2 linked regions of the Homo sapiens genome follow. The protein of the gene in region 1 interacts with the protein of each later gene in a pairwise test. Each region holds a gene or a part of one and is shown in the gene's direction. Other genes may lie near its edges.

Region 1 (3,750 bases):
ACCTATAGTCCCAGCTACCCGGAGGCCGAGGCAGGAGACTCTCTTGAACCCGGCAGGTGGAGGTTGCAGTCAGCCGAAATCATGCTCCTGGGTGATAGACAGAGGCTGTCTCAAAAAAAAAAAAAGAAAAAAGAAAAACAGCTAAGTAGCATTTAGATGAAACTATGACTCTGAAGTAGGGGGTGCGGCAAGTAGAGAGGAAAGAATGTATCATAATGCCTTAAACAAAACTTTTGAGTGAGAGAAGACTATAAAACACCCTTTAAGCACTTATTCACTGGACTCCATTTGTGTTTCTAAGAAATAAGATATACAGACTCACTTCAGAAGGTTTTCTCCTACACTGTATCTGAGACACCATAAATAGAAACATACATTATGTTGCCACTCTATCACAAGACTGAACCTGGACACTTGTAAGGAAAGGAACAACCATAAAGACAGTTGGCCAAGGACAGGATTGACATTCACTCTGGGGGAGCTCCTCGTAGTAGCTACAACCCAACCCAAAACAGTTTCTGGGTTTGTGATGCTGGTGCTGGCTAGTATGCTGCATAAATGTTGTTTGTTTTTGTAGAGAGGGGTCTCACTCTGTTGCCCAGGCTGGTCTCAAACTCCTGGCCTCAAGCAATCCTCCTGCCTCGTCCTCCCAAAGCACTGGGATTACAGACCTAAGCCACCGCGCCTGACCTACAAAAGTGTTTTCTTCCCAACCACAGCACTGCCTCTCAAGGGGCTAACACTCTGGCAGAAACTCGTGAAAACCAATTTCACGTCAGAGGAAGCATCCCCAACATTCTGTCCCGGCTCTTTTTCTTAGGTGAAGAAAGGGACAGGGCGGGGGGCGGAACAATGATATTAAAGACACTGGCAGCATGACAACCAAAATAAACGAAGTTGAAACAGTACGTCCTGCCTTCTTCCTAAAGCCATTTCCTTCAACAGTGATAGGAGTGCAGACCGTCTGCAAGTCATTAGTACGCTGCTGTCTTCACTGTCACAAGGACCCTGGAAACCACTGAAGAGCAAAATCCCCCTTTTCGCCCCACAGATACCTTCCAACCCCCTTTCTGTGCTTCCTTCCCTAGAAAAAACCGAAGAGTGACAATCCTCAGCAATCCGCTATTTCGCTTCACTGACAAGGGAGGTGGCGGGGGCGGTGGGGGGTGAAAAGTGGAAAAGAACACAGAGGAAGGTGAGAAGACACAGTGGAAGAAGTGTGGGGGGAGGTCATCGTAGGAAAAAGACCAGGTATAAAAGAATGCAAGAAAATTGAGGGGAGAGTTATCAGAGGGAAACTTGCTAAGAAAAAAAAAAATTAAGGACACGGGAGGTAAAGAGGTGAGGTCAGGTGGAGCAGCCCAGGATGAATTAAGAGGTGGGCAGGAGGTACGGGGCCGAGGCCGTGATGCCCAGGGTTTAGGGCCGGCGGCTTAGAAGTGGGCAGCAGGTATTCGGCAGACCGATGTCGGGCGAGTCAATGATGTGCAGAAAGCTCCAGACCCAGTTCCGGGAAATCGGGGCCAGGAATCTATGAGGTTCCCAAGTATAGAGAACACAGCGCTCTTACCGGTAGTTTGGGGCTGACCTCGCCCTTGCAAAAGTGGCAGAAAAACCGGTGGGCGGCTACAGCGGCGCCCGAGTCCGCCCCGGCCGCCGAAGCCTCCGCCATTTTTGCCCTCCGCCGCGGCCGTCCGAGAGGGCAGCCGGCCCGTCCCTCGCCAGGCCGCTACCTCCCGAGCTGCAGTCGTCGCCGCCGCCGCCGCCTCGGTGCGGCCCACCGCTTCAGAGCCCGCGTCGGTCACGTGAGTTGGCCAGGCCCAGAAACGCGGCGGCGCCAACAGCTACCCTGCGGCCCGCCTCCCAGCACCAAAGAGGCGCAGGAAGGAGAGACAAACGGCCCGCCCGCCGGCTCCACAAACAGCCCCTCGCTGGTCCTCCAGTCTTCCAGCGAGAAGAAAGAAAGAGCGTCCCCGGAAGCCGCCGAAACTCTGGGGTAGAGTGGCACGCGCTTTTTGCTTTTCCGCGTCTTCTTCGGTGGCGATCCGCGTCCTAGAAAGGGCGGTGGGCTCCACCTCGGCCTAGAAGGCCAGCGGGAGCCGTAGGAAGCCGTCGCGGGAAGCTCAGCCGAATTGGAGTTGGAGCCCCCGGATTGCGCTGACCCTGAGGTTAGTGGAAAATGCTGTCTGAACGTGGCGGCACTGACTGGACCAAGAGACCACGTCCGAAACGGGAACCTGTGTAAAGGAAGTGTAGAGCTAGGAGCCAAGCGCCTTGGAAGCCCTTTCCGAGGATGGCAAAGGATCTGGGAATGCTTCTCCAAAGATATGTGGATGGACGAAATAGGTCTCTGGTGATACTGAGGCGGGGTGGGGACGGGGAGGCAAAGACTTGGCTTCTTAGGAATTGGAAGAAATAAGTAAACAATGTTTGGTAGCAATTTGTAATAAGGAAGTAATCATAAAATTAACTACGTCCGTTTCTGATTGTGTCAACTTTGTCAAGGAGTAGAAGTTTAAGAATTGAATACTGTCCTGCAAACAACGTAACCTCATCTCCTGTTTGACACACCCTGTTGAGAAGCAGTCCTTTACCTCCTAAATTTCTTTTTCGAAATTATCATTTCCTTTATGGACTGAGAATAACACTGCCTGTTCACTCCCACCGAGCTGTGAACAGTGACCTTAATTCTTCCAAGCAGTGAAGTGTAGAAACTAAGGTCTGTGACAGACCGCAAAATCATCTCCCAATCTTTAAGGAAAATCAGAATCACGCATAATCCCATAGAGATAAATTTGATGCATAGTCTTTTCCTATGCATACATTTTTCCTTTTTTTTTACAATAATTGAATTTTTATATTTTTTCAGCTTGCTTCTGTCACTTAATATATTATGAGTAATTTTTTTTGTTTTTTTTTGTTTTGGAGACAGAATCTCGCACTGTCGCCCGGGTTGGAGTGCAGTGGCGCGATCTCGGCTCACTGCAACCTCTGCCTCCCGGCTTCAAGCGATTCTCCTGTCTCAGCCTCCCTAGTAGCTGGGATTACAGGCACCCGCCACCACGCCCAGCTAATTTTTTTGTGTGTTTTTAGTAGAGAAGGGGTTTCACTATATTGGCCAGGCTGGTCTCAAACTCCTGACCTCATGATACGCCCACCTCGGTCTCCCAAAGTGCTAGGATTACAGGCCTGAGCCACCGCGCCAGCCTATTATGAATAATTTTCTACATGAATACGCATCGTACTAAATAACTTTAAATGTTGGTGTAGTATGCCATTGTATGGGTATGGCATCATTTATTGTTAGACGTTAGATTGTTTCCACTAAGTCGGTATTATAAAGAGAACTAATGACTTCATTATTATTAGCTTTTTCTTTCTTTGGACACAATATCCAAAAAGAAATTGTTGTTTCAAAGATATGCAAGATTTTTAAGGCTTTTTGATATGTATTGTCAAATTGCCCTCCAGAAAGAATACATGAATTTACACTCAGCAGCTCTGCTTCCAGCGTGAAAGACTTTCTATTGTACCATTTTGGTGTTTTTTCCCTAGCTCTCAGACTCCCCAGTACAATGACTCAAGCAGAAATTAAGCTCTGTTCTTTGTTGCTGCAAGAGCATTTTGGAGAGATTGTAGAAAAAATTGGAGTCCATCTGATAAGAACCGGCAGCCAGCCACTAAGAGTAATTGCCCATGACACAGGAACATCACTGGATCAGGTATGTCTAAATGACATTCATTTTCTCT
Region 2 (3,750 bases), on another chromosome or scaffold:
AGTAAACTTTTTGTCAAAGATTTTCATTATTATTTGATTCTGTGTACAATTTAAGATCAGCTTTACCATGACAAGAAGCAGATGAAGCACTTGAATCTGATATACATTGAAATAAATTAGTATGTCATCAGGTATGAATGACATAATTCTTTCTAAAACATAGGGCAATTATTTGTGATTGCCCTGGGACAATCACACTGGGACAGCCATTAAAAGAGATTGAAATGGGTACTACTGAGTGACACTTAGGAAGTATAGTCCAACCTAACATCTCTTGTAACTTAGACACATACTATCTGAATTTTCGATAGGATTTACAAAATAGTCTTAGTTTGATTTACAAGTGATACATAGAAGTTAAGAAGTTTGGAGTAGAAGAAAAGGTAAAGGAAACAATGTTTTTTGTTTTGTTTCTCTGAGACAGAGTCTTGCTCTGTCAACCAGGCTGGAGTGCAGGAATGCCATCTCTGCTTACTACAACCTCTGCCTCCCGGGTTCAAGCAATTCTCCTGCCTCAGCCTCCCTAGTAGCTGGGATTACAGGCCTGAGCCACCACAGCCGGCTAATTTTTTTATTTTTAGTAGACACAGGGTTTCACCATGTTGGCCAGGCTTGTCTCGAACTCCTGACCCCATGTGATCCACCTGCCTCCGCCTCCAGAAGTGCTGGGATTACAGGTGTGAGCAACCACACCCGGCCAGAAACAATGTTAAGACAATTCTGTATTGATGTTTTTGTGCAACTCCCTCCTCCCTTTCCCTCTCTCAAAGAATCTTCTTCCTAGCCTCATAAGCATGGAGGCAGACATGAGCTACCCTTTATTGTGTGCTTGGCGCTATATATATTCCCTCATATTCTTATGGCCTCTTAAAGTAAATATAATTATGTCTTTAAGGAAGAATCAGGGTCTGCAAGATCACACAGATAAGTGGTGGCAGCAGAATTGAAACTTAGATCTCTATGACAAAATTCCATGGTTTGCAATCAGACAAAACAGTTCAAACCCGTTTCCTCCACATGGGTGCATTTCTATGAACTTTTGCATGATGCTTTACCACAATGAGCCTTGCTTGGGTTTTATCAGTAAGATCAGATTATCAGTATCTAGAGACAGAATTGCTCTGAGGGTGAACTCAGATAAAGGTCTGTTCAAAGTACTTAGCACAGAACCTTGCAGAGGGTTGCCCCTCAGTGAATAATCACTATTATTACTATAACTATCACTGTTATTGTTGTTATTGCTGTTGAGATTATGATGTCAGGCTTTCCAGACACAGAGTATGGTTTCATTTGATTGTCCTACATGTATTAAAGTCCTACTGTGAGCAGGTTACTATTACTAAACTTTAGCTCCTCATGAAATGTTTATCTGGAAGCAGGTGAAAATAATGTGAGTGAATATGTATTACTTTAAAGACCACACCAGGGAAGCTCTTCAGACTTGAAGATAAGACCTTATTGTTTAAACTTGTGTATTTGCTAAGTTAGGCAAAAAATTGCTCTAGAGACTTTTTTGACTAAATTAAACCAAATATCATCAGATGCATGTGTGTACAAAGCCACAATAAACCTGAAAATGTCGCTGGGGAGGCAAGATCTCCTAGCATTTCAGAACAGGCTGATTTGATCATGATTTAGAGAGCTTTTCCATACACTTAGGCTGCTTTCTCTTCCTATGGCTGCAGCACACTTTAGTGGAAAATAAGCCCATAGGTATCTCATTTTTGGGGTGTGTGTGTGTGTGTGTTTTGTCCTCCCACAATAAGAAATCTCATCCTTTCCCATGGGCTCTGATTTTCTCTAACGTAAAGACATCGCTACTACTGTAGATAAAAGCAACACACTGTCAGAATCACAGAGAGCTAAGAGGTTGGACTTTATGTTCCATTTCTATTTTATTTGAAGATAGAAGTTTGATAACTTTCACAGATCTTTTGAGAGTGCATAATATATATAATTATGCTACACATATTGTTCTGCCACATCCAGATGCAAACTTCTAAAGGTGCAGCAGAGTACATCCTGCCACCAGCTGAGAAGGAGAAAGAATTATGGAAGGAGGGAGATAATTCTTGCCTATAAAAAAATGAGTTTACTTTCCTAATAAAATAAATCTAAAATTGGCCATTGTCATTGTATGATGTTAACAACCAGCTCTTTTGGCAAGTTTGAAAATACTGGGCTCCATTATAAAAGCTAAAAATGTCCTGGACCTGGAGTTGTTTACCCAGAGCATGAGCTGCTCTAAAGTTACAGAGCTCTGGTTGGAAGAGGTGGCTTGAAGGCCGCCTCCAAGTAACTGACGTCACAGTAGTCTCAGCTGCTGCTGTGACACTAAGCTGAGCAGCTTTTTGACTTGTAAAAGTGGTGAAGGTTTCAAAGGGACTTGTCAGTACTGCTCTGTGGAATGGTTGGACTTATTTTGCATCCCCTTTTCTTGTAAAGAATCGAGATTCACCGAGCTGAGACTTTTCTCTTTAAGACAGCTAGCCATCCACTTTCTTCCACTGCTAATTGACCAGTGGTCGAGCATCCATAGGATTTCTCCCCAGTGTGAAAGGTATGTTTCTTTCCGGCAAGTTTACAAGCAAGTGACTAATTATGGCAGGATACAAAGGGGCTGCTGTTGAGATGTTTTAAACTATGGATACTGTTTAAGTGGAGTGTAATTTCAACATCTGTCTCTGCTGTTGTCTGTGTCTGGGCTTAAAAACAGTGGGCGGGGTGCATAACAGATTGTACTGACTCCTAGGAAAAAGGCTGTTCAGCTGCTCAGGGTGGATTTCCCAACTGTGGACTGACAGTACCATCCGCTCTTTGAGACTGTTTTTCCAACACTGCTTCTCAGTTGTTTGAAAAGCACTTTGCCCATCATTGATTTTCACTAAGTATATTTATTCAAATGTGATTTTTTTTATTCATATAAAGACTTTTAACATTTGCAAATTAAAGGTCACAATCCTGGAGACTTGGTATTTGAAAATTGCGGTGAAAAATAAATTTTAGTTTTATCTAAGGTGGTGGTGGACTCACTGTAGAGTTAGTGTTTCTGTAATTTGAGCTGAAGTCTATGCCATTCATAATTGAATAATCTACGTTTAGGAGGGAAACTTACCACTATGTCTTTTGTTCACGATGGTTAGTTTTAGACATTTGTTTACTCAAACCAAATGTTTGCTTTTAAAGTTTGCATTTTATAAGTAAAATCAGTGTGCATACAGCTTGGATGTTTTCTAATTTGAGTAAATAACTGTAAAGAAAACAAGGAAGAAGATAATTAAATGAAACGGTAAAGTTGATTCATTCGGAATTGCATGTGGTAGTGTCTCTTTGACCTTGTTGGAGCATGAGGAATGTGCTAAATCAGCAATACACAGCAATGAAAAAAATTTCCCTTTTACTCTAACAAAATCAAATCATGGTGGTCTTTGGAAAGATTCAATTGCAAGTGAACAATAGAGAGGAATGAGATTTATTAATTCATTGAAATAATTCAAGTGATTATAATAGCCTGGAGAAAGGGATAGAGAATTTAGGAGGTAAATGGTACATTACTCTGATAGGTTATAAGCTGGGGAATTCCTAATCCATCAAAGTTAAGCAGAAGCAAAACATCTTCAGGCCAAATGAGTCTTCTAGGAATTGTGAGATTAGCAGTACCTACTGTGTGTGGCATTTCTATTGGAATATGTAACCTCTTATAAATGAAAAATCTTTAATTATGTGAAAAGTGATATGTTTAGCAAAAGG

What was found. The genes of interacting proteins can lie anywhere in the genome.
Region 2: the proteins of POLR3C (region 1) and KIAA0408 interact in binary tests that used the Homo sapiens proteins (3 or more experiments, as listed by UniProt).

The regions. Positions count from the first base shown.
Region 1 is NC_000001.11:145,822,202-145,825,951, forward strand, and holds the start of POLR3C (DNA-directed RNA polymerase III subunit RPC3), read left to right. Parts: upstream 1-1,998; 5' UTR 1,999-2,168; intron 2,169-2,243; exon of another isoform or gene 2,244-2,327; coding exon of another isoform or gene 2,328-2,346; intron 2,347-3,555; coding exon of another isoform or gene 3,556-3,575; coding exon 3,576-3,722; intron 3,723-3,750. Other genes in the region: E3 ubiquitin-protein ligase RNF115, read right to left, coding at 1,571-1,672. UniProt on the Homo sapiens protein: DNA-dependent RNA polymerase catalyzes the transcription of DNA into RNA using the four ribonucleoside triphosphates as substrates.
Region 2 is NC_000006.12:127,457,985-127,461,734, reverse strand, and holds the start of KIAA0408 (uncharacterized protein KIAA0408), read left to right. Parts: upstream 1-2,345; 5' UTR 2,346-2,560; intron 2,561-3,750.